3 separate regions of the Homo sapiens genome follow, and all the other regions are linked to region 3. The links come from fine-mapping of genetic effects on gene expression. A gene starts in region 3. Each other region holds a variant in brackets. All regions are shown on one strand. Distances are from middle to middle.

Region 1 (10,536 bases), 210 kb before region 3:
ATATTTGGGTTTTTTTAAAGGATTAAACTATTCTTAATGGGCAAAATGAGAACTTTATTGGACTTAACCTTATTTTGTAATTTAGTACTTTGAAATAGCATATGGGGAAATACCATAATAATTTCTATGCTTGGGGCTTATGAAGGTCTTGCAGTAGCTCTGCTTACCAGAGCACTGAGGATTCACAGCTTCAGAGTAAAGACAAACAGCTCATTGTTGTTTCTACAGGGTCTTTCAGCCCTTTCTCAAATATTCTTTCCATCCCTGTAGCTTTCTACTTTTGTTTGGGGATTCCCTTTTCTTTGAATGTTTGCCCTAACTTCTCCTTCAAGTTCAGGTCAATTTAACTTCTTCCAAAAAGACTTCCTAGATTCTCCAAGGAGTGATAGATTTTATTCCTCTACATGTATTATTTCATAATACCTATTACATTTATAACTGACCCTTCCCATGCCACCCCTCAGTACAAATTGTGATGGATTTGGATGAATTCCAAATTGAGTGAATAAACCAGTGAGTCCATCTAAGGCCCCTGATTCCCACTAGCTCACCCTTCTCATTTCATAGTGGCCATTTAAATTCCAAATGGCACCAGTTTTTACCCGTATACATATAATACATACACATGCATATGCTAAATTGTAGCTTTTAGAAAATAGATACTATTTCTTACTCACTGTTGCCCTCACCATAACATGTGCTCAGAATGCAGAAAAAGTTCAATGCATTTCTGAATTTTAGTAAAACCATCTTTTTTTTTTTTTTTTTTTTTTTTTTTTTGGCAGACACAGCCATGTAGTATCTTTTAAATTATCATGTAGCCCTGCTCCATTCTACAGAGTAAGGGCTCCCACGACAGGTTTGTTTATTCATTCACAAATAAATTCAAAGCCAGGCATGTTGTTTCATACCTGTAGTCTCAGCCCTTTGGGAGGCTGAGGCAGGAGGATCACTTGAGGCCAGGAGTTCAAGATCAACCTGGGCAACATAGCAAGACCTAGTCTCTACAAAAACTTAAAAAAAAAAATAAATTCAGAAATCCTCCCTCTAAAGTAGGTACGATCCTGAATAGTGTGTCCTCTGTAACTATCAAGACAGCTGCAACCACCTGCAGAGTGTGCCTACAATGTGCCAGGCTCTGTGTGAGTGACTCACTGTCAGCCTGAGCCTCTGGCCAAGGCTCAGCTTTCCAGAACTTCTTTCTTTTCAGGGAAATGTAACTCCCAGCATCTGGAGAAGCTAATTACTCCTTGTTCATGTTTGCTCTTGCACCAAGACTTTTTTATTTTTTATTTTTAGGAACAGTCTGTTCATGTTTCCTTGGCTCAGATCTCTATGTTCCCATACCATTATGATGTAACTTAGAATTTATTTTACAGAACTGAACTCAATTCAATTTTGAAATTGTATAAGAGATCTACTCCACCCCTTTTCTTTCCATTAAAAAGCAAGAGGGATGTGTAGAAGCAATTTATTAAGGGTCCCTGCGGCTAGTCCCAGACCGCTATTTCACTGTTTCCTTATAGTTCACTGAGAAGGGAAGGGAGAACAGGAAAGGGGAGACCAGTTCCTTCCTTCCTGAATGATTGTTTGGCCAATCCACAGGAACGCCACACCTCAGCCATCCTACTCCCATCAGGGAAGCAGTACTCAGAGAGTCATCCCAGAGCCAGGGCTGGCTGTGTCAGGCTACGATGACAGTTCAGATTGGGAGGTGAAATTTGGCCAACAACAGGGAAGGTGTGATAGGACGTGATAATTATTAGAACATGACATTTTGAGAATAGGATCCAAGTCTGTTTAATATATCTTCAGCACCAACACAATGACTTGGCTTAGTAATAGCTCCAGAATGATTAAGTGAATGAATGCCATGTTCTTGCTTTCTGCAAACACTCTTTAAAAAGCATCTCCTTCATGTCTCTCTTCTGTATATCAGGAATCAGGAATTTGATGAGGCATACAGCTCATCAGTCTGGAAGCATTCTGCTAATTACAAAAGCCCAGGATGCTTGTGTGGAAAAAGCACAGGTTAGAGAGGGGAGAGTAGAAAAGGGTTTTTCCAGAGCCTTTTCTTCTTTTTTTTTTTTTTTTTTTTGACGGAGTCTCACTCTGTGGCCAGGCAGTAGGGCAATCTCGGCTCACTGCAAACTCTGCCTCCCGGGTTCAAGCAATTCTCCTGCCTCAGCCTCCTGAGTATCTGGGATTACAGGCACACACCACGCCCAGCTAATTTTTGTATTTTTAGTAGAGATGGAGTTTCACCATGTTGGCCAGGATGGTCTCGATCTCTTGACCTCATGATCCGCCAGCCTTGGCCTCCCAAAGTGCTGGGATTACAGGCATGAGCCACTGTGCCTGGCCTTATCCTTTTTTTTTCTTTTTGAGACAAGTTCTCACTGTCACCTAGGCTGGAGTACAGTGGTGTGATCAAGGCTCACTGCAGACTGGACCTTCCAGACTCAAGTGATCCTCTCGCCTCAGCCTCCCTAGTAGCTGGGATTACAGGCATGCACTATCATGCTGGGCTAATTTTTTAATTTTTAATAGAGACAGGGCCTCACCATGTTGCCCAGGCTGGTCTCAAACTCCTGGGCTCAAGCAATCCTCCCACCTTGGCTTCCCAAAGTGCTGGGATTACAGATGTGAGTCACCACGCCCAGCCCTCCAGAGCCTTTTCAAATAGGCTAGAGCCCACTTCCCTGTATGCTTAGTTTCAGGTTTCTATGTCATCCTCCCAACATGTTGAAATCTGTGAGAACAAGGATCAACAGTATACGACAATGGTTTAATGGGCTCTGCAGTTGTAAAACCCTGGATGGTTCTCCACTGACAAAGAGGAAGTCACTTAACCACTTTGACTTTTAATCCATTATCCATAAAATGAAGGTGGTAATAGTATCTGTCTCATGAGGTTGCTAGGAAGATTAATTTATATACGATGCACATAAAGTACTTGGCCCGGCCCCTGGGACAGAATAAGGTCTGAATAAATGAGAGCTGTTGTAATTAATTCAAGGCATAGCATGTGGCATTTCATGGACATTTTTCAATTGCTTGAGTAAAACAGACCCAGCTTGGAGAAAGCAGAACAAATCAGAATGAGACAGTCCATCAGGATTCCTTCCAAATTTGTGATCACATTGCAGCTCATCCCTTTGTTTTGGCTCAGTCATTTCTCCAATTGTGAGCAACTTAGGGCTCTTCACAATAGGGAGAATGGGCATATTCACAGGGGCAAATTACAGTTGGAGGAAGCCTCCTGGAGGAATGGTTTTCAGGGGACTTAGGTCCTGGCTAAGTGCCTTACAGCACTTGAAGATTGTTGAGGAGCCATTCTCCACTCCCCCTAGTTTTATGAAGGTATACTTGACAAAACTATATATACTTGCAGTGTACATTATGATGTTTTGATATAAGTATACATATTGAAATTAAATAATTAACATAGCAATCATCTCACACATTTATCAATTTTTGTGGTAAGAACACTTGAAATCTACTGTTAGCAATTTTCAAGTAGTCAATACGTTATTATTAATTATAGTTATCATACTGTAAAAGAGATCTCCAGATGTTATTCATCCTGTCTAACTGAAACTTTGTACCATTTGGCCAAGAGTTCCCCATTCCTGCCCCCAACCTCCCAGCCCCTGGTAACCACCATTCTATTCTCTTCTTCTATGAGTTCAAAAAAAAAGTTTTTTTTTTGAGATGCAGTCTCGGTGCGATCCCAGCTCACTGCAACCTCTGCTTCCCAGATTCAAGCGATTCCCCTGCCTCAGCCTCCTGAGTAGCTGGGATTACAGGCATGCACCACCACGTCTAGCTAATTTTTTGTATTTTTAGTAGAGATGGGGGTTTCACCATGTTGGCCAGGCTGGTCTCGACCTCCTGACCTCAAGTGATCCACCTGCCTTGGCCTCCCAAAGTGCTGGGATTACAGGCATGAGCCACCATGTCCCGCCTGTGAGTTCAAATTTTTGAGAGTCCACATATGAGTGAAATTATGTGATATTAGTCTTTCTGTGCCTGTTACTTCACTTAGCATAACATCCCCCAGGTTCATACATGTTGTTGCAAATGACAGGATTTCATTTTTCAAGGCTGAATAGTATTCCATTGTGTATATATACTACATGTTCTTTATCCATTCATCTGTTGA[T/C]GGGCACTTAAGTTGCTTACGCACCTTAGCTATTGTAGATAATGCTGCAAGAAATATGGGAGTGCAGATATCTCTTTGAGATCCAAATTCCATAGAGTTTTTTTTTTTAACCTCAATTGAGAGCAAAGTAAGAGGAAATGGAGCCTACTGGCCCCTGAAGAACTTCTTGCTAGACAGGAAGAAATTCCTGGAAGTTATTTAGCCTCATCAGAGGGGGCAGTTAATATCCTTCTCAGAACAGAAAAATATTGAACTTTATTGAGGTATAATTAATATACAACAAAATGCACTCCTTTGTTGGATGGAGTTCAATTAGTTTTGACAAATGAATACACTCATGTAACTACTACTGCAATCAAGATTTAGCACATTTTCATCACCCCAAGAATTTCTTCTTTCCTGTCTACAGTCCACTTGGGTCCCGAGTGATTCTGTTATTACATGTTAATTTTGCTTATTCTAGAATTTTATATGATGGAATCACACAATATGTACTCTCTCTTCTGTGTTTGGTGGTGTTTTGCTCACTCACGTTGTTGCATATACCCATTGTTTGTTCATTTTTATTAGAGTATAATATAATATTGTATCTTATAGCTTTTTAAAATCTGTTCACCTGTAGATGGACATTTTAGTTGTTTTTCAGGTTGTGGACATGATAAAGTTGCATGTGTGTGCAAGTCTTTGTGTGGATATATGTGTTCCTTTCTCTTGGGTAAATACCTAGCAGTGAAATTGCTGGGTGGTTAGGTAAGAAACTTTTAAGAAATTGGCAAATAGCTTTTAAAAATAGCTGTATCATTTTATGTTCCCACCAGCAGTGTGAGTTCCAGGTATTCTACATCTGTATTAATCAAAGTTCTCCAAAGAAACAGAACCAATGGGAGATTCTATGTATGTATATAATTTATTATGGGAATTGGCTCACACAATTACAGAGGGCAAGAAGTTGTCTGCAAGCTGGAGAACCAAGAAAGCCAGTAGTGAGTCAGGAGTACTACTCTTGTCCAAAGATAGGTGAAGATGGGTGTCCCAGTTTAAACAGAGAGTGTGAATTTGCCCTTATTTATTTCTTTTGCTCTATTTGAGTCCTCAATGGATGAAACAATGCCTGCCCACATTGAAGGGTGTTTTTCTTCTTTCTACCAATTCAAGTGTTAATCTCTTCTGGAAATATCCTCACAGACATACCAGAAAAAGTTATACCAGCTATCTTGGCATCCCTTAGCCCAGTCAAGTTAACCCATAAAATTAACCATCACAACATTCTCACCAACAGTTGATATTTGCAGTAGGCAAAATAATAGCTCCCAAAGGATGTCCATGTTGTAATCCCCAAAACCTGTAAATATGTCACCTTACATGGCAAAAGGGACTTTGTAGATGTGATTGAGAATCTTTTTTTCTTTTTTAGTATTTTTTTTTGAGAGAGAACTCTTCTGTGTTGTTCAGGCTGAAGTCCAGTGGTGCAATCATGGCTCACTGCAGCCTCAACCTCCGGGCTCAAGCGATCCTCCCACTGGGACTACAGGTATGCACTGTCATGCCCAGCTATTTATTTTATTTTATTTTTTGTAGAGAGAGGGTTTTGCTGTGTTACCCAGGCTACTCTTGAACTCCTGAGCTCAAGCGATCCTCCCACCTTGGCCTCCCAAAGTGTTGGGACTATAGGTGTGAGCCATCATGCCCAGCCTGGTTAAGGATCTTGAGATGAAGAGATTATCCAGGTGAGCCAATATAATCATAAAGGTCCTTAAAATATGGAAGGTGGAGGCAGAAGTGTTAGAGGAGATGTGAGGATGAAAACAGGTCAGTGTGATGTGGTCATCTGCTAAGGAATGAGGGCAGCCACTAAAAAAATAGAAAAGTCAAAGAATAGGTTTTCTCTTAAAGCTTCCAGAAGGAATGCAGCTCGGCAGACAGCTTGATTTTAGCCCCGTAAGCCCCATTTCAGATGTCTCACCTCAAGAACCGTAAGACATTAAGTTTGTGTTGTTGTAAGTATGTGGTAATTTATTATAGCAGCAATAGGAAACTAATACATTTTGTTGGTCTTTTTAATTTTAGTAATTCAATGAATATGTATTGTATCTCAGAATGGTTTTAATGTGTGTGTGTCTATCTAACGATGTCAAGCATCTTTTAGGAGCCCTTCATATATTTCCCGTAAAATGTCTGCTCAAGTCTTTTGTCCATTTTAACTGGATTGTCTTATGATTTAGTTGCAAGAGTTCTGCATATGTCTTGGATACAAATCCTTTGTTAATATATGAATTGGTACTATTTTCTCCCAGTATTTGGCTTACTTTTTTATTTTCTTAATGATGTCTTTCAAAGGGAAGAAATTTTTAATTTTGATGAAATCCAATGTATCAATTTTTAACTTTTTATGCTTTATGCTTTTTGAGTCTAATAAATTTTTGACTATCCTCAAATGGCAGGAATTTGGATGTAGGTTCTTTTCTAAAAGTTCTACAATTTCAACTTTAAAATTTACTTCCTTGAACTTTTTAACGTGAGTTGAGATGCTTTGTATGAAGCCAGAGGCTTTGTTTCAGAGAATCTTTTCAGGCAGTCTTATAACTCCATTAACTCCGTCTCTGGGTGATAGACACTAAAGCAATCACTTCAGCACTTTGGGAGGCCGAGGCAGGCAGATCGCCTGAGGTCAGGAGTTTGAGACCAGTCTGGCCAACATGGTGAAACCCCGTCTCTACCAAAAATAGAAAAATTAGCTGGGCGCGGTAGTGTGCGTCTGTAATCCAAGCTACTTGGGAGGCTGAGGCAGGAGAATCGCTTGAGCCCAGGAGGTGGAGGTTGCGGTGAGCTGAGATTGCACCACTGCACTCCAGCCTGAGTGACAGAGCAAGATTCCATGTCAGAAAAAAAAAGAGAGAAAAATATGAAAATATGCTTTTTTGCGCGTTACTCTTTCTGACTACTGAAACATAAACTAGCATTTACTGCATTGTGATGCTCTGCCAGACAAACTTTCCTCATCTATAAAACTCGGTTCATTTCATAGATGAGAAAGCTGAGATTCATGGAGTTTAACTACCTGCTATAGATTATACAAGCACAATCAGTCCAGAATTTAAGTTCCTGTCTCATGGATATACTTTGAACTTTCTCATCTTGATGGTATGACTTCTTACGCTTGAAATATATTACCCTTTTTTTCTATGAAAATTATTATTTCTCTAAAGTCAAAATGCATTAACCATATTAAATATGGGCTCTTTCTTCTCAAGCGCCTGTCAGATTGTGAAGGGAACAATCCAATGCTCCTTTTTTCTTTCCTTAGGGGCAGAGGTTTTTGGCACCGTTTGTATCTCCAGTGTCCTGATTCACTTCTGTGAAGAGCAAAGGCAACTGATGGATCAATGCTTGGAGCAAAATGCAGAGAATCACTTCTTTGGAAGTGATTAGCATCTGACATTCTAAAAATGGATGAGCAGAGGGATTAGCCTTTATGCAACTGGGACCCTGAAAAGCAAGTATTAGGTTGGTGCAAAAGTAATTGTAGTTTTACCATTAATTTCAATGGCAAAACTGCAGATGCTTTTGCACCAACCTATATATACATGAGCATACATAGACATTGAGGAATGTATATCACTACACAAAGCCACCAACAGCCATGTTTGTTGGAGGAAGGATCGCCAAGGATCTTTTCTGTGTCCTCTTGGGAGATACAGGAGTGGTAGAAACAGGCCCCTACATGGTGAACACACTTAACCGGTGGCATTCTGACCCTCTCACTGCCCTACCATGGCTTTCAGGCTAATTTATTGATTCTCAGTGCCTCAATTTTCTATTTTAGTGACAGAAACAGTATTGTTTATGTGCTAAACTGACTCCCTATTTACTAGCCCCGTGATTTTGAACAATTTGCTTTATTTTTCTGTGTCTCATTTTCTCATCTGTAAAATGTAGCTGCCATGACACTGATCCAACATGGTTATGATAAGGATTTAATGAACTAAGATGGGTAAAGCTCATGAATGCTGCCTGGTATATAGCAAGGGCTCAATAAATATCTTCAGTTATAGGACAATTGTACATACATACATACATATATATATACACATATATAGATATGTGTGTGTGTGTACCTATATATTTTTCTCAAATGTGACAGAACTGCTTGGTTGTCCTTTTCCATGTAACAAACATAGTAATATAAATAAAGTAATAGTTGGGAAAAAACAATCTTACAATAGTCCCATAAAGTACTGAGCCACAGAGAAGTTAAATATAATGCCCATGTTTATAGAATTCGGAATGATTGCACAGATTACACAATACTTCTTTATTTTCCTGTCCAGATCTGATAGCTTTAGGTGAAGTGGGGAGAATGAGTCATAACTGGCAGGTATCGGAGGGGGGCTAATATCTCTGGCTGCTTTGCCTTAAACACATGATTTATTCCACCCAGCAGTGGCTGAGCTGAGCCTTGAAAACAAGTTTGCCTGGTTATATCCATGCTCACTCTGCTGCTCAGCCTTCTTAGTGCCACATACGGTCAGGAACCCTCCCTCAACAGTGAGATGTTTGTGGGTTTGCTGGTTGACACTGGAAAGGAGAGTGTGGTGACAAAATGAGCTAAGGTGAGAGCAGGGTGTTTCAAAAGCAAATACTGCCTTCTTTACAAGCTTGCCAACTCTCAGAGGAAAGACTGTGATTCTGTCTTTGTGGACCATGGAAGTTCCCTGCACCTTTGTCTATTACAGGACTGTCTTGTCTTACTTATCTGAATGCCCCTAGTGCCCAGCCCAGAGCCTGGTGAATGGTCAGTGTTCCATAACTGTTGAATGGCACTAGATACCAACCATCTTAGCCCTGGAAAGAGCTTGAGTGATCTAAGTTGGAGGGAAGCTCAGAAATAATAACACCTGAACTCCTGCTGGATACAGGAATCTCCTCGCATTATAAATCAAAGAGTGTAGTGGTTTAGAGCATAGGATCTGGAAACAGACTTTCCTGGGTTTAAGTCTCAGCTCCATCATCCCAAATCCTGTAAATATGGGCAGTTTATTTAACTTCTCTGTGCCTCAATACTTTATAGGGATATTGTAAGATTTTTTTCCCAACTATTATTTTATTTATATTACTATGCTTGTTACAAAGAAAAAGACAACAAAGCAGTTCTTCCCCATTTCACAAAAAGTTTCCAATCAACACCAATTACATGGTGATAAATAACTGGAATGGTGACACCTTTGGGTCAAGACTGGCAAGGAAAATGCTATGGTTCATCTCCAACAAGAATATGGCACATTGGCCGGCACAGGTAATGCCAAAACTGAGTCCTTAGTGCTCGGCCCAGATTTGGATCTCTTCTCTGAAGGTAGCAAATCAGGTAAAATAATTGGGTTTTTAAAAAATAAGTTTAAAATGAAGCTCAAGTTAAAAACCCATGCTCTTGACATATTTCCTTTCAAATTTTATATAAAACACACTTTTCCACTCTAATAGCCCAGATTTTTTCTTTACACAGCCCATCACATGGTTGCAGACAGACTCTTCTGCCTTAAGATGTAAACATAGGGAAAAATTGATGACATCTGCATAATACTCTTTCCACACTCTGCTATTACATGGAAAATACAAAACTTTTTTTAAAAAAAGAAAGAAAGGTTCCATCTTAGATTCTCACAACCTCTTGTTCCACAGTTTATGAACCTGACTCTGATACTAAGTTGGCAGTGTGTGTAAGCAGATTTTTGTTTTCAGTGAAGGAAACCTGGAAAAAGATGGATTGAGCTCATTTTCTTCCAAGAGTTATTGAATGGTACATGCTCCTCAAAGCCCTCATTCTCTCTAACTAGAGCACATTTCAGAATCACACAGCCTTCCTTATAATGCTGGCTGTCTTCAGTGGCAAACTCACAGATCCATCCCAGTTGGCTGTTGCGGTTTTTGTAGCTCACACCTTGAACCATGTGGCAGCCAGTGAGCATGATCCGATCTTGAACTTCACCATACTGTAGGTTAACTACTTTGTGACAAAGAAACGCCCTGCTAGTGGTGCCTGTGCACCTAGTAGAGATGAGCTGAGTTCTGAGCCATTGGTCAGGATTATATCACAGTTTGCACGAGAAAACAAATGGGTACTGCCAATATAATCAAGGAAAATTCTGCCCATTTTTGGAGCTGAAATTTTAAAAACCTGCATAGGTGAGTAGAATAAAGGGGTTGCAAGAACACACCAACCCTCCCTACAGCAAGTGAAAGGTAGGACGCAACCCACAGTGGACATAACTGGGCTGGCCTGGGCTTCCCTTGATGCTGGGTTGTGATACTGTAAGATTTTAATAAGATAATATATTTAGCTTATTTAAAACAATGCCTGGTACATAGGAAGTGCT
Region 2 (10,536 bases), 250 kb before region 3:
TCAGGATTGCTGGCCCATAGAGAGAAACTGAAAATCCCAGCTTGCCTTAGCTACCATTACCAAAAACCCAGCTCCTTCACCTGTTCCTAACTAACTTTTACTTTGTTCTCATCCTTCTTGGCTCTCGGGTCCTGTGTTGCAATGGGTGGAAACAGCCAAGTTTCATCTCAGGCTGTAGAACCCAACCCTGATCTTTTCTCTAAACAAGCAGGAACCCTAGGAGCTAGACAGAGGCTGGGATGCTGTATCTTAGAAACCGGAGATGCTGGGGCTCCAGGAATCTTGCAGAGGGATGTAGTGCATGGAGGTGAGGGAGGGATCCAAGGGAAAAATGGAAGTTAAATTCATGGGCAACATTCCAGAGATTCATCATCAAAGCAGAGGACCTAGGCAAGGAGACTCTAGGATCATGATCCAGGGAAAACAGCACAGAGAAGGGAAGGGTTTGTAGCAGAGTTCAGGTGGTGAAGCCTGGAGAAATTCTCTAAGGTGCAGATAATACCTGCAGCTGTGGCTTACTATAAGCCTATGACCTGAGGCTGGGTGAGGTCACCCTGTAGCCTCCCTGGACCTAGCTGTTTACCTGCAGAGCTCAAGGAATTTGTGTGGTTATCCTTTTGCCACCTCAGCTTCAAATAAAAGGTTTGGCAAAGGTTTGGCTTTGGGGAGCCTAAAGCAGGATTTTGGAGATTAGCCAAAGAGACTACAGAGATTCCTTTCTTTTTTTTTTTTTTTTTTTTTTTTTTTTTGAGATAGAGTCTTGCTCTGTCACCCAGGATAGAGTGCAGTGGCATGATCTTGGCTCACTACAACCTTCGGCTCCCGGGATCAAGTGATTCTCATGCCTCAGCCTCCTGAGTAGCTGAGATTATAGGCATGTGCCACCACACCCAGCCTTTTTTCTTTTTTTTTCTTTTTTTTCTTTTTTTTGAGACGGATCCTCGCTCTGTCGCTGAGGCTGGAGTGCAATGGCGTGATCTTGGCTCATTGCAACCTCTGCCTCCTGGGTTCAAGCAATTCTCCTGCCTCAGCCTCCCAAGTAGCTGAGACTACAAGTGTCTGCCACCATGCCTGACTAATTTTTTGGTATTTTTTAGTGGAGATGGGGGTTTCACCATGTTAGCCAGGCTGGTCTTGAACTCCTGACCTCAGGTGATCTGGCCACTTCGGCCTCCCAAAATGTTGGAATTAAGACATGAGCCACAGCACCCGGCCCCTATTTTTGTATTCTTAAAAGAGACCAGGTTTCCCCATGTTGGCCAGGCTAGTCTTGGCCAACTCCTGACCTCAAGTATCTGCCCACCTCAGCCTCCCAAAGTGCTGGGATTACAGTCATGAGACGCCATGCCTGGCTGGGATACTGAATTTTGAATCAGAAAATCCAGACTTTACAATAGTCAAAACCATATCTTATTTGTCTTTCTGCTCCATTACCCAGGATTTTACTTAGAACATCAGTAGACACCTGAAAACATTGGTCAAATAGAAGTGAATAAATGATTAAAGAACAAATTAACAAGTAAATGAAGCCCGACATAAATAAAGGCCCTGCTAATCCACCAGCTACACTCGTGTGACAAAGGCCCCAGAGATACCCATGCTCTATATCCATGGAATTGTGCCATGGGGCTGGCTTACTGGGGATTCTATTTACCTGTGGTCTTGACGGGCCTCCCTGGAGAAACAGTAACCTGACATCTGGAGAGTACATTTGGCTCTGTGAACTAGGTCAGATCTGCAGACTTGTGGTTTACCCACTTAGACCCATGCCACACACAGCAGGCCCCTGATGAGAGCCCTGGCATCCTTGCCTTGTGCTTCTTCACCATCCCCTCCCAGATCTCACCTGGCCTCTTTGGTCCCAACTGTGTGTGTGCCTCCTCTCCTCTCTCTAGCTTCTTGCTCTTCTCTATGCCCTTTGCCTGACCCTGCCTCTCTGGTTCTGACCTTGGCTCCCCTCCTGTTTTGCAGTGAGCATTTACCCTTCAGATCATATCTGCAGCTGCCACTCTGGGCAAACTCCCTCTCCCTCAAACTTGGCCTCCATGTCCATTGGCCATAGGCTGATTTTCCCACTGTGCTTGGTCAGGCTTCATGGGTGGAATTCAGACACCAGGACTGGGCATCCTGGTCAAAACCAGGGGCAAACGCTCTCACCTGCATTCTTGGGCGGGAGGCAGGGGTCCCAGGCGGCCAAGAAACTCACCCCATAACTGAACAGAGGTGGCATGCCCACACTCCGTCCCTGGACAAGGGAAGCTCAAATTCAAATAGTATACAACATTGTGCTTCTCACATAGTAAAACCAGTCTTTCAGAAATGTGTCCTGAATTCCTAAGGGGAGGAAGGGAGAAAGATCCTCCAGAAAATAAAAAAAAAAATTCCAATAAAACGAAGTTGGTCCACTGGCAATATAGTACAAAACAAAGATCTTGGTAAGAAAACATCTCCCTGATTTTGGGGTTCCCATGAAAATAACACAGGTCCCCATGAAAATAACGTAGATGAAGCAGCAGAGAACTGACAAAGGCTGTGGAAACATGGAAAGAGTAATGATAACGCAGAAATCAGAGGTGAAGTAAAAGCACAAGTGAACCTTCACAAAGCTGGGCTAAGTGATATTAACGTAGCTGCTATTAACCAGAAATTCCCAGTCAAGTCAACCAGGCTTGGCAGTGGTGGCCACCAGAGGGCGCTAGAGTAGAGTCCGTGGGAGAACTTCAGCGGTGGCCCTGCAGGTTTGAGAGGCACCTTCCCGGAGGATGGATTTGAAGGGCTGAGGGTCCAGCAGTTCTGTGGGTTGGCGGCTCACAGGAGAAAGCATGAAGACATACTTCCATCCTCACACCCCCGAAGGTCCTTGCCTGGACTGGAAGCTAAAGAAGCGCATGCTACATTGTTTTCCTAGTGACAAAAATCCCAGCTGGCCTCTGGTTAACTTTTCAAACAAATGGCACTGATGTGATATTGGGCGAACTCTAGGTGTCACTGACCTAATAAAAAGAAAAAAGCTATTTGCTTCCCATTTTCCGATGCAGTGAGGATTTCACAGTGATCTCAAACACAGTGAAATACATAAAAAGAGCCTAGCTTAATGGGGGCACCCAGCAAATGCCCAATAAACATCTGTTCCCTTTCCTCAATAAACCCCATTTGCCTCTCAGCCTGCAGCCTCCCACACTGGTGGACCCACGTGCCCCTCAGAAGTGAAGCTTTTGGCCCCTGTAAAGCAGCAGCCCCTCTGGCCAGAGAGTCTTTTGTCCCAGAGCCTTTGTTGTTCCAGATTTCTCACTGTGAGGCCTCAGCAGCTGCCAGGGGGCCACCCCAGGAGCTGGAATCAGAGCTCAGAAAGACAGCAGTCCTTCTTCTGCTCCTTTCTGGGCCCGCATGCCCCAGCCCCACACCCAGCCTCAACCACACTGCCCTGCACACCCTCACCGTGCCCCCACTTCTCCACAATGTGTTTCTAATCTGCCCAGGAACAGTCACCAGCTCACTTTTCCTGCCTGGTCTCATTAGCGTGGCCTCTGGGCCTGGGCCTGGGTGTGTAGCCCAGAGGCTTGCACGGAGGTGATCAGATTGCAGGGAACAGTATGTTTCCCTCCCTGCCTCTGCTTGTTTTCTTCAGGGGCCAGGGCCAGCCAGCTGAGCTGTCTTCCTCTTCCCCGGCTTCTCATCCTCCCTCACACATGGTCTGACTTCAGTGGGTGGGGGGATGAGCAGAGGGTGTGACACACACGAGTGTGCATGACTGGCATGTAGGGAGTGTGAGTTGTGGGCAGGTTTCTTAAGGGGAGGCAAGGCTGCTACTACTCCGGGAAACAGGCCTGGGAGCCAGGGGGAGTGGAGGAGGAAGGCCAAGCTGGGGATTTGTACAGACCAGTTCTGGCCAGATCTCTTAAAATGTTTTGTTCTTGCATTGCTGCTGCTGCTGCTGTTGGTTTTTTTCCCCCCTTCCCTGTGCTGAGCTGTCATTTCTTAGTCCAGCCAGGCCCTTATGAACTTCTGGTTCCTCTAAACGGTAAACACCCTGGTTTTCCAGACTACACCATAGCTCTCTTTTCTTATTTGCCTTCAAAATACACTTTAAAAAAAAAAAAAAGAAAGTAGAAAATGGCAATATCAGTGATAAGGGCAGGGCATGCACTGAAAAAGAACAGTTCAATCTAACATTTATCGAGCCTGCCACCTTCCTCAGCTTTATTCTCTCCTTTCTTGTTCTTGGTAACAGCAGATAAGAAATCAGCTGTGGGTCAATACGTGAAAAATGTTCACTCTTTTAGAGTAGTATTAAAATAAATATTTTCAATGACAACATTAAGCAGTTAATAATTAAAGCATGTGCATATGTATACTTAAAAGGGGCTGGAGTCCCTTCTGTCCAAATCAAATTTTCCACAAGCGTTGGTAACAAGGTGGCTGGGAATGTTGAGATGTGAGACTGGCCTTCCAAGGATCAGGAGGGCAGCTGGTGGTGGGTCTGCTCTCTCTCATCACTCTCAGTGGCGACATCACCGTCCATCCTCCCCAGTACTAAGATCTGCTTCAGGAAAGAGCCTGAAACCAGCCACATGTATCTCATGTTGGTGAAGGAAAATCACAGTAGTGGTCCTCAGTGGGACTCTAAAATGACTTCACATCAGCCTCATTTGGTAAATGAGGAAACTGAGGCTCCAAGAGGTGATGTGTGTCACCCAAGTTTCCATAGCAGAGCTAGAAAAAGACCTTGTTCCTGGGGTCCTGGGAGAGGGTCCTACTGCCCAGCTCTGACGGATGAAAGGAAGGCTTTTTTCCATGGTACCAGCTGTTGCTATGGGCAACCCTAGAGATCACTCTGTGGGGTGTGGGATCCTTCGGGAGAGCTTGTGCTTCCATTTGGAGAGACTTCACAAAGAGGGTGTGCCATGGGGACTAACATAAAAAATCAAGAGTGGGGAGACAGAAAGAGGAAGGTCAGCAGAACTGTCCAGATTTCTACAATGCCCGCCCTTCTTAGGCAAGCTAAGCCATCTACGTGTTGGGGGCATGGTTGCTGGCCCTCCGGAAACCCCTCGGATCTGAAGAGCAGACAAGAGCATCTGTCATCTCACAGAGATGCCTTGGGATTTGAATACTTGTTTTGTCTTTGGCCTGGAGTTTTACTCTTAGAGCTCCTTGCCCAGATATTCCATGGTAACCCACTGTCATATTCTGCATAGTCCTCTGAGATAAATATGGAGAAATTATGGAATGCAGGGGAAAGAATTCTGAACTTCAAATGAGAAGAGCTGGGTTTGTGTCTGGCTTCACTCCTTACTTGTGTCTAATCAAAAGCAAATCAAAATTGAAAGTAAGAGCTAAATTTTTGTTAAGGTAGGATTTTAAGGCAATTGTTAAGTCAAAGATGTATCTTAAGCACCACATTCAAAACCACGTATTCTCGTACATCACTCTTACTGTATTTTCTAGACTCTAAGAAGCCATTGACTAAGACACAGCAGCGAGTTAATAACAGCTTTTAGGGGGAAAGGAGAAGAAAAATGTTTCTCTGTTAAACATACACATCAATTGTAAGACACAGGATCTCTGAAATGTCAGGTGTGAAGATCAAGCTTCTTGGAATGAAAGAAACAGTGGTATTGTTAACATTTTGAAGGAAGACTGGCTCAGGGAAGGGCAAAAGACATTTTTGAACACACGGCTACTTATCGGGTTAGTAGAATGTTCCCCAAATTCTCCTTTGTAATACCTACATCCTCTTTGGCTGTTCCCCTCCTGGTCCTCAGTCTTTTGTTTACCTGTCATTGAAACTTTCCACCAGTTTGGCCAATGGCCATTGTGTCAACTGCAGCTCAGACTTGTCCAGGCAAACACCGGCTCACTGACCAGGTGCTCACCAAGCCTCAGGGTACACATACCAGCCCCGCGGTACCATACCCTCAGGGTACACAACCACACCCACAGACACCTGGTAATACTGCTTCATACTACATTAATTTTCCTGTAAGCA[A/G]ACTTTCTGACTTAAATCATTTTGTTTCAGAAGTAAAAGTGATAATTTCACTTTACATGCAAAACCTATATCACTTCTGTAGATACAAAGTAAGCATAAAAATAGTAAAATGGGCCAAGCACAATGGCTCACACCTGTAATCCCAGCACTTTGGGAGGTCGAGGCAGGCAGATCACTTGAGGTCAGGAGTTCGAGACCAGCCTGGCCAACATGGTGAAACCCCGTCTCTACTAAAAATACAAAAATTAGACGAGCATGGTGGCGCATGCCTGTAATCCTAGCAACTCAGGAGGCTGAGGCAGGAGAATCACTTGAACCCAGGAGGCAGTGGTTGCAGTGAGCTGGGATCATGCCACTGCACTCCAGCCTAGGTGACAGAGCCAGACCCTGTCTCAAAAAAAAAAAAAAAAGTAAAATGGAAACATAGAAACTTAAAAAAAAAAAAACTATGTTGATTCTAATACCTTGTGTGTAGAATAAATCCAATCAATTTATGAAAATAATTTCCTCACTGAGAAAAATGAAACTGTAATCTTTCCATAAGAAAGGAATATTCAACCCCACGTACTAAGTTTAAGAGAACAGCGAGGAGCTATGTCTGTTAGGGCCAGTTACACGTAGGAGCCACAGTACCAGCTGCCTGCAGAGTAGCTGTGTGACCACAGGTCAGTTTCTCAACATCTGTGCGCCTTAGTTCCTTGTTTGTCAAACAGAAATGAAAATAACACCAATTTGGGGGTTATTTCTGATGACTAAATGAGTTAATGCATGCAAAGCACTTATGACAGTGCCTGGTATTTAGTAAGGTCTCAATACATGTTAGCTATAATGATAATCAGTAGTCAGGGTATTACAATTAGTAGTATTCATGACTTAAAATTCCTACTCACTGGAGTTGGAGTCAGAAAGATTTTTAAGACATTAACTGTTTTCTCTCATAAGACTGGTTACTCAGGGTTAGTTTCTAACCAAAATGATGAAAGTAGCTGTTGCCCAACAACTGCTCCTTAAAGAAGCCATCTCCAGGATGGAGTGTCAGAATATGTCCAGTTAAATCTGGTCATGTTTGGAAAGTGATGGAAAGTGGGTTCCTAATCTACTCCCTGCCACATTCCAGTTTAGAAAAATACTTATATATTTTTTTCATTTTCCAAGGATCACTATGTTCAAAACAATTTTGAACTAGTTATTCAGACGACTTCATTACCATGTGCTTCAGATAATGACAATAGTTTTTGATAAAATTTGAGTCTGGTTGAACGCTTGCTTGACTAGAAGACACATGTGTGGGTCCTTGGTGTACTGTCTGGGCCAGTGACCCCTTGCTGAGCATGAACTATATGCTATGCAGGGTTAAATTATTTAATTCTCATAGTAACCCAATGATTTAGGTACTCTTTCCCCTTTTTACGGCTGAGGAAAACCGAGGCACAGAGTGGTCAAGTGACTTAAGATTACAGTGTTAATCATGGGTTTGAGACAGAATTCAGAGGCCTTCCTCGGTGCCAGAACCCTGTTCTCCAAACTCCTCGGCCTCGTGGGAGTGACAGTGTAATCTGAGGCCACAGCCCTGCCTTAGCTTTTCCCATGGGCCCTGGCCTCAGAGAAAGGCACCAGGGTGGGATGTTCTGCCCCTATAGATTTCTGCTGGCCCAGCCCTACCTGGAAACCCAGATGATGAGCAAAGAAGCCCCTTGCATGGGTGTGAGTAACAGCATGTGGGGGGTCTCCAATGGCCCCAGGCAAGAGGAGGACACCGTGGTTCCCTACCCGATTCCCATCCTTCCTTCCTCCTACTTCCTTCTCCTATTACTGTTAAACCCTACCCCTCAGTGGCAGGCACCAACTTTCCTACCTCCTTTCCTCTACCAGCAAACTTATCAGGTTAGGCCGGTAGACTATGTTTGATAAAAACTGAATTGGCACATAGTAGGTCTCTAAGGTGTATGTGAGCAAATGATAAATATAATTGGAATTTTCTTTGACTGTATACTCCTTCCTTATGGGCAAGAACTCTGATTTCTCTGTTTCATTAGAGCTTATTATAGTGCCCAGCACATACTAGATGCTCAAGGAGTATCAGTTACTGAATGTCTGGTGCAAAGGAGCTGGGAAAAAATCTAAAGGAGAAGGGATGAGTTTGGGTTTTATTTTTAGTGCCAATGTTCAAAAATATTTTTTAAAAATGTTCTACCAAACCCAAAATATTTCATTGAACACCTGGGACATCTCAGCTCTGGGAAGATCTTCCTATTACATCTCACTGCCTCCCTATTCCTGCTTCACTCTGGAAGTCCTCAGGTTATTAGGGAAAGCTCTAAAGGTGGAGGGCTGCTGGCAGGGAGATAAACATGCAGGGACAAGAGGCAGGAGTGGACGAAAACTAAGAGATACAGCAAAGATGTACGAGAGTAAGAAAACACTTGCATTCCTTCCCACGCACAGCCAGGTTGCTAGGAAGGACCTAAGACCTATGTCAGCCCTTGCCACCCTTACCAGGCAGTGACCTTGGAGAGGGACTTCAGAGACCAGAGCTTTCATACTAAAGGAAGATTGGAGGTTGTGATTATTGTTCACTATCCGAGGTCCAACTTTGTTCTGATTCAGTCTCATTTCTTTCACATCTTGACTGTTACTGAGTACTGGGGTTTCTTTTCAAAATAACAGAGATATGTGAACTCAGGAGAAGCTTCAGGAAGAAGCCTTTGAGGGGAACCTGGGGTTAGGTTTTAGAGGAAGACAGAAGAAGAGGAGGAGCTGTCTTTGATAGGAGCATCTGACGACAGAAGATCTCTGTGGAGGTGCTTCTGAAAGACTGGTAACAGAGGGCTCCATGAGAAAGCTCGTCAAGGGAAGGGGGAAGTGGTTCCGAGAAATGAGCTCAGAAGAGCTCTGACTTCACGTTGCCATGGTGGCAACATCCTTGCTCCATTACAACATACATCACCTAACACATGACAAAAGCAGTCTGCAAAGGGGAAGGGACGGCTGAATCAAGCCCTGCTGAGTCACTGTAGTTAACTTCCCACTCTCTGTCCACTGCATTTCTTTAGAGCTTCTTGAGACTGGCCCTCACGGCCCAGCTTTGGGTAAATTATTGGCTCAAGAATTCAGCTTTGAATTCAATCTTCCCAGATAGGATCCTCATGGCCTCTAGTTTGGCCATTCAGTCTTTCCAGGTAGGTTCCTCATGGCCTCTCTCTTACTAGGCCATTACTCTCCTTGTTTGCCTTGACTCCTGAAAGCTGTGTGTTTTGGTATTTTTCCCCTACAAGCAATTTTAACTTTCTTTTTTTGCATAGACCAGCCATGGCTCCCTGTGATTTCAATCCCAGCTCAATATCACATTCCCTCAGACCATGTTGTTTTAGCCTGGCCCTGACATTCTTACAGCTAATTTATTCATTTCTTGCCCTGAAAAACCTCTAAGTCTTAGCCCAGCCCTGGGAACAAGACAGGATTAGTCTTGTGTGGATTTTTGAACTTGACAGTTGAAGACTTTAGATACCTAAAATCAAACTCACTTGTGACCCAGGCCACTCAATGCTACAAGTACACAGAGGGACAGTCCTTGGGTATGTTGCTATGTGACATACAACATGCATGCTCATTAGGATCCCTCATGAAGGCAGGCACTGACATACTTACTCCTTTGAAACCCTAAATTTAGACCAAAGGAAATGTCACCTCAAATTGGGCCCATGGTCCATCCAAATCAGGCAATAACAACAGCCAACATCTGCTACATGGTGCTGACATTCTGCTAACCACTTCTCAAGCATTTGCTTCCTTACTATGGTTGTTCTCAAAACAATCCTGAGGGGTGGATATCATCATCAACAGTTTACAAACAAGTAGGGAACTTAGATAAAGCACGGATCACCCTTGGACAAGTTTGAACTGCATGGGTTAACTTACAGGTGAATTTTTTTCAACAAATATATTGGAATATTGTTTGGAGATTTGTGAAAATTTGAAAAAAACTCACAGACCAACGGTGTAGCCTAAAAATATCAAAAAATTAAGAAAAGGTTATGTCACAAATACATAAAGAATAAAAAGATGTTAGTCTATTTTATCATTTACTACCATAAAATATACAAATCTGTAAAAATAAGTTAAAATTTATCAAAATTTACACACACACTTACAGACCAGTGCCATTTGCAGTCAAGAGAAATCCAAACAAACATAAAGATGTAGTATTAAGTTGTCACTGCATAAAGTTAACCGTTTGGAGTCACCCCCTGCTGCTATTGCAGTGAGCTCCAATATCATGAGTATCCACTTAAAACACTGTGTGATGCTGATCATCTAGAGTGAGCAGTTTGTCTCTCCAGTAAATTGGTTCTCACTTATTTTTCATCATGTTTAGTGCATTCCTATAAACTTTGAGTAACACTGTGGGACTTATATGAGGTGCCACTAATAATGTTGGAAGTGCTCCCAAAAAATAGAGAAAAGTCATGACATTCCTAGAAGAAGTTGAATTGCTTGATATGTACCATAGACTGAGGTCTGCAGCTGTGGCATCTGCCATTTCAGAT
Region 3 (9,482 bases):
GGCACTTAACCCTCTATTCACAAGACAGCTGCTTCTGGTTGTCAGATTTATTCTTCATTTCTCAGGCACTTGGAGCCATTCTATAATTTTTGAGAAACATTTGTCCATTGGTTTACATTTGTCCTGGCCTACATTCCAGGCAGGAAGGCTGTTACTGGGGACTCCAAGACCGGCAAACAGATCTGGACAAATCCAATGCTATTTTATGCAACCAACAGAGAAGACCATAGAAAGATGGGCCATATTATCTCTTCCTCAAAGCAGAAGTTCAGGGAAAAGAATCACTCAGATTCTTAAAATAGTGCTGAAATTGCCTAGTCTTCCCAATGCTGATTTCAGAATGTCTTCTCCCTCCCCTTCACAGCATTCACAGATTGAGGAGGGGTATCCATAGCTGTGCTATAACACACCTGCAGGCCTTCGATTGTACTTGAAAACTTCACATAACACCAGCTTGTTAGGGTCCTTACGGAAGGGGTCCCGAAACATGGCAGCAGGCACGAGATACATGTCACTGTTGGAACCCTCAGACTGTAAAGTACTAGAGCCATCGAAATTCCACTCAGGCAACTCTGGGGCAAAAAGAGGGAAAATTACATTTAAAACATACAGGAGCTTTCCAAGCAATGCAAATACAGCCAGCCCTTCACTCACCTTCCCATCTCTAAATATCTCTTTTCCAGGAATTCATTAAGGTATAAATGCCATCATTAATATGTATACCCTGGCACCTGTACCTGATCTTATAGCCCTTCCTATTTGAGTTCCAAGTAAGACCATTGTACCAATTCCTTAAAAGAAATATATCAGATACTCCCTTCCCAAATGTCTTCCAGGAGACAAGCTGAAGCATTCTGTTATCACTACCATCCTATCAATCACTTAAAATATTGAGATAGTGAAGGATTCTGATTCTTCCATTAGGTAATGTGTTGCATCCTTCTTATGCCCCCAGTGTATTCTGGCAAGTTATGTCCTTATTTTATAGATGAGGGAACAGACGACTAGCAGGATGACTTACTCTAGGATGCTCCCTTATCACCTATCCACCTTTCCCACTGTTTTGAAGGCTGCTTGGTCTCTCTAGCTGACTGAGTTCTCTGAAGGCAGAGACGAGACTCTCACTTTGTATCTTCAGTGTCTGTGCACTATCATCTGCCACATAGCAAGTACACAATATAGGCTTTGTATTATGATCATTCACTTACTCAAAAAGGAAAAGTAAACTACCCTAAACTAGGTAGGATATGATACTTTCCTCTGGCCCCTTTCCAGAAGAGGGAAGACTATGGCTTGTTCTAGACTGAAAAATGAAGGTCACAACTATAATCTAACTGTAGCTCCTAGAGGGATACGCAATTAGTTTAAGAATTTCCAAAAGTGGCATCAACTAAAAATTAGTCCTATTTAAAAACCATTGTAGAGCATTTGCTTCACATCTAGAAGCCAGTGATATGAGTATTAAACACAGTTTTCTAAGAGTTTGTAAACTAGATGGCATTCTCAGGTTAGAGCAGTGGTTTTCTGAGGGTGCCTTAGAGCCAGCTAAGTGGGGATGTCCAGGTCGGCAACCTCTAAGCCCCATGCCAACTCTCCATAAACCAGACTTAGTTTTTCTTCAATACACTGGCCTACGTGCACAATTCCATTGAAATAAAGGGTTCCATCGTCGCTCTGCTTTGAGGCAGTGTAGGAGCTTAATGTTGACTGAATAAAGTCTGAAAAGCCCTGCCTTAGAAAACCTTTACAAACAGAAGAAAGAGGCCTAATCCAGAGGCTGAGTCAAAGGCTGCTGCCCACCCCTCTGCAGATCCCACCCAGCATGTGCTCCACTCCACATTGCTGTCTCACCTTCCACACACTTGGGCTCACTGTCCAGGGTCCGGGTCTTGCAGCGCAGTCCTTCTCCAGTACCATCGATCCAGATATACATGGCCTGGACTTTCTCACCCTGAGGCAGGGACATGTACACCTGCTTGATGCCTTTATTTAAGTGGGAACTTGCTGAGGTGGTCATGGTGGAAGGTGTTCTGGAGAAGAAAAAAAGAATAACATTGTTAACGCCCACTCCAAACTGATCCCCTGCAAAAATGGCTCAAGAAGGACGACTGAATCAAAAGTCAGAGTGTAAGTGCCAACTCCTTCCCTTGTGGAAGTCAACACACAAAAAGTTATGTTTACTCACTCTTTCAGGGGGATTAGTTTTATAGTAGGCAAAAATCTCCTTTATAATAGGCTGTAAAACTGATCACCACCTTTTGAAACAATTAACACAGATGCCTGCTAAAGAAAAGATCAGGCCCTTGGTAGTAACTCAATGCCTCTGCATCCCTGAGCTCACAGGCTTAAGTTCCACAGCTACTGCAGAACCCAGGCTTCCAAGCTAGAACTTATACTTGTGAGGACTAAGGTCTATTCCTTCAGTGTAGCTGAGGTTAACACTAAACTATCCAAATACTAAACTATCAGAGGAAACAAATCAAAACCAATACACAAATTTACAAAACATAGAACTTCTTCCAATATAAGTAAAATCCAGCCACAGAACAGGCTTGGCTTCCACAGTTTGTTTTTCTCTTTGTCTTTCATCCTAGCTGTGGTCTTAACTCAAACCCACCGCCCCTCCCCACCAAAAGAAAACTCATTACACATTTAGATTTGAGGATGAAACAAGGTTACAATATATTTTTTTAGAAGGCTAGCAGTTTCCTACACAAAAGCTGATTCAAGCCAGATTCTAAGGGGAATGCTGCCATAATTTCCATAGGTCTCATGCAAAGTCTCACTTAAGATAGTGGGCAAGAATCACAACATTATGGAATTCTACAAGACTTGTCAAGTAATTAGGAAATTTCCACTTCTAAATCAAAAAGATCTGGAAATTTAAAAGCCATGAGGCATACTAATAACTGCCAGCCACTACCACAAAACCTCCGAAAGAAGAGAAACTCTCAAGCCACAACAGCCGAAGAGGAAACATTCTCTCTCTCCCTCCTCCCTCCGTGGACCAGGGTGGCTAGAAAGGGAACACATTGTTCTCCTCCAACGACTAGGGCAACGTTCTGAAGTACAGTGGCAAAGTTTCTACGGGCAACCGTCCATGTTTGCCCAGCTGAAAACATAACTGCTTCTCCCTCAGCCTCACCACCCTTCCCCTTGGGGAAGACCAACACCCCAATATTGCCTCTAGAAGACTCAGCCGGCCAAATCCTACTTCCCACCTCCATCCCAGAACCCTTTAGCTCCCGCTAAAAGCTACAACCCACCGAAGCGGGCAGATCACCTGAGGTACAAAGTTCGAGACCAGCCTGGCCAACACGATGAAACTCCCGTCTCTACTAAAAATACAAAAATTAGCCGGGCGTGGTTGTGCACGCCTGTAATCCCAGCTACTCGGGAGGCTGACACAGGAGAATCGCCTGAACCCCAGAGGCAGAGGTTGCAGTGAGCCGGGAGATTGCACCACTGCACTCCAACCTGGGTAACAGATAGAGACTCTGTCGGAAAACAAAAAAAAAAAACCTACAACCCAATTTCTCGGCTGTCCTCTCCAACATGTTACACCACCAATATCATGCACACTTTGTCCTAAGCCTCAGTTTCGGATCTCTTGCTCTTTTCCGTGAGCCGAGTTGCATGCCAGCAGCCTAGTGCCACTCTATCAACTGCTGCTGCTGCGGTGCCAAGTTTACGTGGGGGAAATGGATTCTGAAGTTTTCAGCAGTTTCTGCAGCTCCCACCAACTCCGGGGTCGTCCTCCCTGCCCCCTCACTCACCCCAGCCACAGAAAGTCAAGCGTATCGTTAGGGTTGCCCTCTTTAACCCTTCTCTTTTTGGAGTGGCGTTCGCGCCTCTCCTCTTTCTCAGACTCTAGCTGGTCCAAGCACCGGAGCTTTCTGGGAGAGGGCGATGGAGAAGGGGACAGACAGCGGCCGGCCCGGGGGGTGTCCGAACAGGCAGGTTGGTGGGTTAAGGTCTTAATCTTGACTCGAGATCTCTCCCCGGAGTTCACAGAGTAGGCGACGAAGCCGAAGCAGCTGGAGCGCGACCCGGAGGAGTCTGACTTCTCGTTGTCTTCATAATTTTCATTCGTTGCTTTCTTCGTGGACTTGCGGCTGGGGGAGGATCCCCGCTTCCCGCCCCCGAGGGAGTTATAATTATCCACTTTGAGAGCAGCCCCTTCCCACTGAAATGTCCCTAAAGTGGGCGCCCTGCCCCTCGGGCCCCCGTCCGAATCTCAGGGCCTCACGGAGGTGGCCATACCCTGCCGCCGAGGGGTTGGGGGGTCCGGGGGAGGGTGGGGGCGCAGGCCGTAGGGACTGCGCGCTGCTGCTGCCTCCGCCCGGACCGGCTTCTCCACTGACTGCGCCGAGGCCCGGGCTCTCCATTGTTCGGTCACATTGGAAGGCCCCCGGGACCCCGAGGCGGGAGCCGGCCGCCCAAACAACGCTCACCGTTACACGCCGCAATCGAGGCGTCTCAACCATCGCCAGAACCAGGACGATTGCTCCGAAGGCCCCACCACGAGGAAGGCAGCCAGGCGCCCGCGCCAACCAAGCGCCTTGTTTGCGCTCCACAGGGGACCGCACCGCCACTCCATCCACAGCGCAAACAAACCACTGCGAGCCCCAGGGCGCAGGCCGGCCCAACGGCCTCCAGGGGCGGCGCTTCGGCCGCAAGTAGTGAAAAGAAGATCAAAACAACTCACCCCGCCCTTCCCAGAGCCTGGCCAAGGGCGCGCCCCACCAGCGCCAGCCCCGACGGGTCCAAGCCACCAGCGGCGGAAGCACGCGGGAGGAGCACTCATGCCGGATCTCAGGCATGGGCCGGAGAGGCCGCAGCGTAGGGCTGGGACTGGAGGGGCAGGCAGCCGAAAAAAGAGGCTGGGCGGCGCGCCTCGCGGGGTAGCAGGGGCGGCGCGCCTCGCTTGCGTGACACCGGGCCGTCCGGGGGCTTACCTGGTCGCCGAGCAGGCGGGCGGGTAAAGCTAGGCCGCGAGAGCGAGGTTAGGAGAGGAGAGGAGGCCGCAGTACTGCTCACACGCTCCGCTCTTCTCCCACTCTCGACTCTGCAGAGCCGCCAGCAGCCCCGCACCCTTTATCCGCGGCCCGGGGCCGCCCCCGGTGCCCTGATTGGCTCCCAGCGGCCAGGAGCCCGGGCCGATCAGCTGATGCGGTCCCGGGCCCCGCGGCCATTGGGCGAGGAGCCCGGCGGGCGCCGCTGGGGTGGGGGCAAGCGAACTGGGAAAGAAAGAAAGAAAGAGAAAGGGGCGTGGGGGAGGGGCAGGGCGGCGTGGGGGAAGGGAGCGGAGCCGGGAGGGCTGAGGGCAGAGGGGCGAGTTGCCGCCAGGCCGGGAAGCCTCGGCTCGCCGCCCACCCGCCAGCTCGCCAGGTGCCGCCCCACGGCCCCCAACCCGGGGTCCCGAGGCTCCCAGCAAAGCCCGCCCTGGACCTCTGCCCTGCCGCCTTCACGGGGAATAGTTTTACGAGGAGAGCTCCCTGGGGAAATGCGGAACCAGGGAAACCGAATTTAGCCTTTTGTTGCGAGGGAGCCTCCGAGCCCCGCTTCCTGCGGGCAGGGGTTAGCTTGAGAGGGAGCGCGGGGCGCGGGACCCGAGGGAACTTTGGGCGGGCCTGGGCTAGGGCGGGTGCCGCGCGGGCCTGGGGACAGGCCGGGGTTCCCAAGGCCTGGAAGAGCCGCCCGCTCCGGCTCTCTTGGGTCTGGGGAAATAAACAGAACTCTGCCATTTCACATTTGAAATCAACGTGCTGTTTCTCTAATTTTACAGAGAGGATTCTGGAGGGCGGTAGAAACTAAGTCTGGAGACCTGTCTCATACTGCTGGCCAGACCCTAGGCAGGTCTTTCAGGGCCCAAGTTTCCTCATCTGCAAAATAAAGTGGTCATCGAAAATGACCTGTGGAGCCGCCCACTAGATTTGAAATTCTGTGTGCAAACTGCCCCCGGAGCAGCTGAAAGGAAATCGAGGTGTTCACTTGCCCCCTTTGAAGTCCAGGGATTGTCAAGAAATTCCTTTAACGAATTCTCCCTGATTTTGCTTTATCAAGTGCGGCTTCTTGTTAATCTGGAAAATGGGAATACATACCTCTCCTCTCAGCTTGCCGTGATGGTTGGGAAAATGTGTATGTGAACACAATATTGAAATGTACCTAGAGACACAACATAGGTAGGTAGGTAGGTAGGTAGGTAGATACTGCTATCCGTACTATTACTCGATCATTCTATTTTTAGTGCCTGAAATCTACCTGATGGTGTCCAGATTTTATTGCTTCTTTCAGTTTAAAGAGCAAGAATTTATGCTTCCAGTGCCTTTGGAAGAGGAAGGGAAGAAGTTTGTTCTGGTTATGTTTTGTACCGCAAATGTGGAAAAGAAATGTTGCCTGCAACCACACACACATAACTTGGCTTCTTTGGTCAACATCCCTTTCCTTTAAGAGTGTATAACACTGTAGTGCTTTTACATGACAGATGCAGCATTCATCTCAAACAGGGTTTTTTGGGATGTTTCAGACTGGTGACATTTTGGATTGGGTAAGGTGCCTTACAAATTCCTTGTTAAATTTCAGTGCTGCCCCTTGAAGCATTACATTGTGGTGGCTAAAGGCACGGCTGCAAGTCAGGTAAACCTAGGTTCAAATCTGGGCTTTCCCTTCATACCAGCTTTGTGTTGGCCAAATCACTTAGCCACATGAAGCCTGTTTCTTTGTCTATAATAAAAGAGGGATAATCATTTTTACCTCATAAAAGGATTAATTGTGATAGCACATGCAGAAGAGATTGAGTAGTCCTTGGTGCATCGTAAATGTTTAGAAAACAGCAATTATAATTATCATAGGCCAAGTTCTATAATCTGAGGTGATTGGATTCTTTCTTTCCCCATAGCGACTTTTGAATACAACTTTTCTGACTCAGTGTAATGCTTTACCATTCATTATATCAAACTGGACTTAACCTTGGTAACACAGTGAGCTGTCTTCATCTCTTTCTGTAAAGGTTTGAGTTTAAATGGTCGAGGAAGGGGAGCAAAGGAGGAGAAAAGTGATATTTTTATTTTAAAAGATGTTATTAATCATTTCCAGATACCAAACTACCGAACCATAAGCCAGAGCCTCTGCTGCACACACCACCAGCCCCTGAGGTGGGGATGACAAACATAACAGAGAACGGAATGGTAAGGCGTGAGTGCGGTTCTGCAGGCTTATGGTATTTCTGCCATTTGAGTGCCTGCTTCCCTTCCTAGATGTCTTGACCTCATTGAGCAGTTTATTCATTGTCATATCCCCCAGTAGTGTCCACGGTGAGTGTTCAATAAATGATATTTGTTAACCACACAGAAGTGACAGCAGCACCATCAAGAGAACATGTGCTTTGAGCTGCTTTTCCAAGAATGGAAATGGATTTGCTTTGATCCATTCATGTGACCAGGGGCACGCTTTGTAAGGGTTAGGAACATAATACATGACCACTGACTCTTTCAGGAGTGAACAAGAGGCCTTGTCCTCCTTGGCCAGCCCCACATTTACTTAAAATGATGAAATTAGGGCGCAGATGAGTCCAAGAACTGACCAGGGAGGCTTGAGCATAGGCGAGAAGTAAAAGCAGAAGAAAACCCTTAACTGGTTCACCCGCAGAAACCCAGACTGTACTTTTAGAGAAGTTAAAAGTAAAACAGCCTGTTTCATCCAGTTTGACTTTGCTGTGTCTGCTGCCCTTTCTTCTCCTTCCCCTTCTTCCCTAAATTGCCACCCGCCCCCATTCTTCACCCCCACCATAAAAAGAGCATTAGAATGCTTGAACCCATGAACTTTTCTGTTTCTTGGTACACACCATATCAGTGCTGACAAGGGGTTCCATTGCATGTGCTTTGAAGTCATATTTTTCTCTCTTAGAGTAGAATTGCCATGTCCAAGGGGTGGGTGGAGTGGGAGAGCAATTACAGGGAAAGATTTTGTTCCAAATCTGCAGAAATAGCCTGAGATTAAAAGTATTTCTTCAATGTTGTTCTGCTGCCTGAAATAAAAGCTTTGTATTAGGATTTTGCTCTACTCCCAAATCTTATCTCTATTAGGAAACAACTTTTCTCTTTTTTTTTTTTTTTTTTTTTTTTTTTTTTGAGACGGAGTCTTACTCTGTTGCTCAGGCTGGATGCAGTGGCGCAATCTCGGCTCACTGCAACCTCCACTCACTGTAACCTCTGCCTCCCGGGTTCAAGCAATTCTCCTGCCTCAGCCTCCCAAGGAGCTGGGATTACAGGCGTGTGCCACCACACCCAGCTAATTTTTTGGTATTTTTAGTAGAGACGAGGTTTCACCATATTGGCCAGACTTGTCTTGAACTCCTGACCTTGTGATCCGCCTGCCTCGGCCTCCCAAAGTGCTGCGATTACAGGCGTGAGCCACTGTGCCCGGCCCTTTCTCTGTCTTTTAAAGGATCCATTCTCACTCTGCAAGTATGAAGTCCTTTACCTGGGGATCTGGAGTGCCTTCCCAGGGCCTGTGTGGTTGCCTTATACACATTAGACACAAAATTTAGGGTAGGGCTCACATTGACCAAACCTTTTCTGTTTAGGAAATGGAGTTTTCCCTGTGTATGAATGATTTCAATAGGCATTCAGTGAGACCTTTAAATCATGTTAAAGAGATACAATTGAGACTCAGGGTTGGGGAACACCCTGGAAACCCAACCCAGAATTGTAAAATATTCTTTTAAAAATTATTATTATGTAATAAACCAACATCAGTTCTTTCCAAAAGAATGGACCATAGTAGAATCTTAAACCAAATCAAAATAATAATAATAAAAATGAAGAAGAAAAGAAATAGCTCTGGAAGTTGATAGCATTATTCTTAAACCATAATTTAGGGAAAAGCTGTAGTTGGCCAAGCTTTCAAATTTCACTTTATACAATTAGAGAAGGAAAGACTACATTTACATTATACTTCAGTTCAATAACTAGCACTAAGAATGGAGGAATTGTTCTTTACAGTTTTTGATTGTTTGATATTCTTCAGTTCAAGACAGGAAATTGGAAATTCACGTCTCAGCCATATCTGTAGCCTGATTTGAGTTTTGTAGGATGCGTGCTGAAATCAGTCAAATACAAGGAACACTTCATTTCCCCAACTGCGTGTTATGATGGAAGGTTTGGGTCTGTTTGAGCTCTACCCTGAATCATGTCTCTAGCAGGAAACTACGTGGAAAGTTGGGAAGAATCAAGTTCATCTTAGTTAACAACCTGGGGAAAATGTCCTATTGAGAAAATTAAAGCCATACAATTCTAGAATTAGATCTTCACATCATTCTATCTTAAAGATGAGGAACTGAGGCTTAGATAACTCATAGTAACTTGATGAAGTCATGTTTGGTTAGTATTTTAGAGCTTAATGAGCTTTCAAGGTGCTGTTCTTTTTCTGTTCCCTTTCCTTTAGTCGCTTTGGTCTGTGGGTGATCTGTTCCGGGGCCA

Evidence for each region. PIP is the estimated chance that this variant, and not a neighbour inherited with it, causes the effect.
Region 1: its variant is fine-mapped to the expression of GLUL in whole blood (TOPMed, PIP above 0.99).
Region 2: its variant is fine-mapped to the expression of GLUL in whole blood (INTERVAL, PIP above 0.99).

Annotation. Positions count from the first base shown.
Region 1 is chr1:182,172,784-182,183,319 of GRCh38, forward strand. It overlaps the pseudogene YPEL5P1. Among named protein-coding and RNA genes, the nearest start is that of ZNF648, 120 kb to the left of the region's middle. The variant T/C (reference allele first, on the strand shown) is at 4,166.
Region 2 is chr1:182,140,663-182,151,198 of GRCh38, forward strand. No RefSeq gene overlaps it. Among named protein-coding and RNA genes, the nearest start is that of ZNF648, 84 kb to the left of the region's middle. RefSeq lists a silencer at 2,712-2,888 and enhancers at 2,897-3,565, 3,566-4,233. The variant A/G (reference allele first, on the strand shown) is at 5,990.
Region 3 is chr1:182,386,721-182,396,202 of GRCh38, forward strand. GLUL (glutamate-ammonia ligase) reads right to left here and starts at 5,070. Exons shown (of 7, transcript NM_001033044.4): 1 at 4,959-5,070; 2 at 1,852-2,030; 3 at 411-572. The coding sequence starts at 2,017. RefSeq lists an enhancer at 1-143 and a silencer at 4,806-5,485.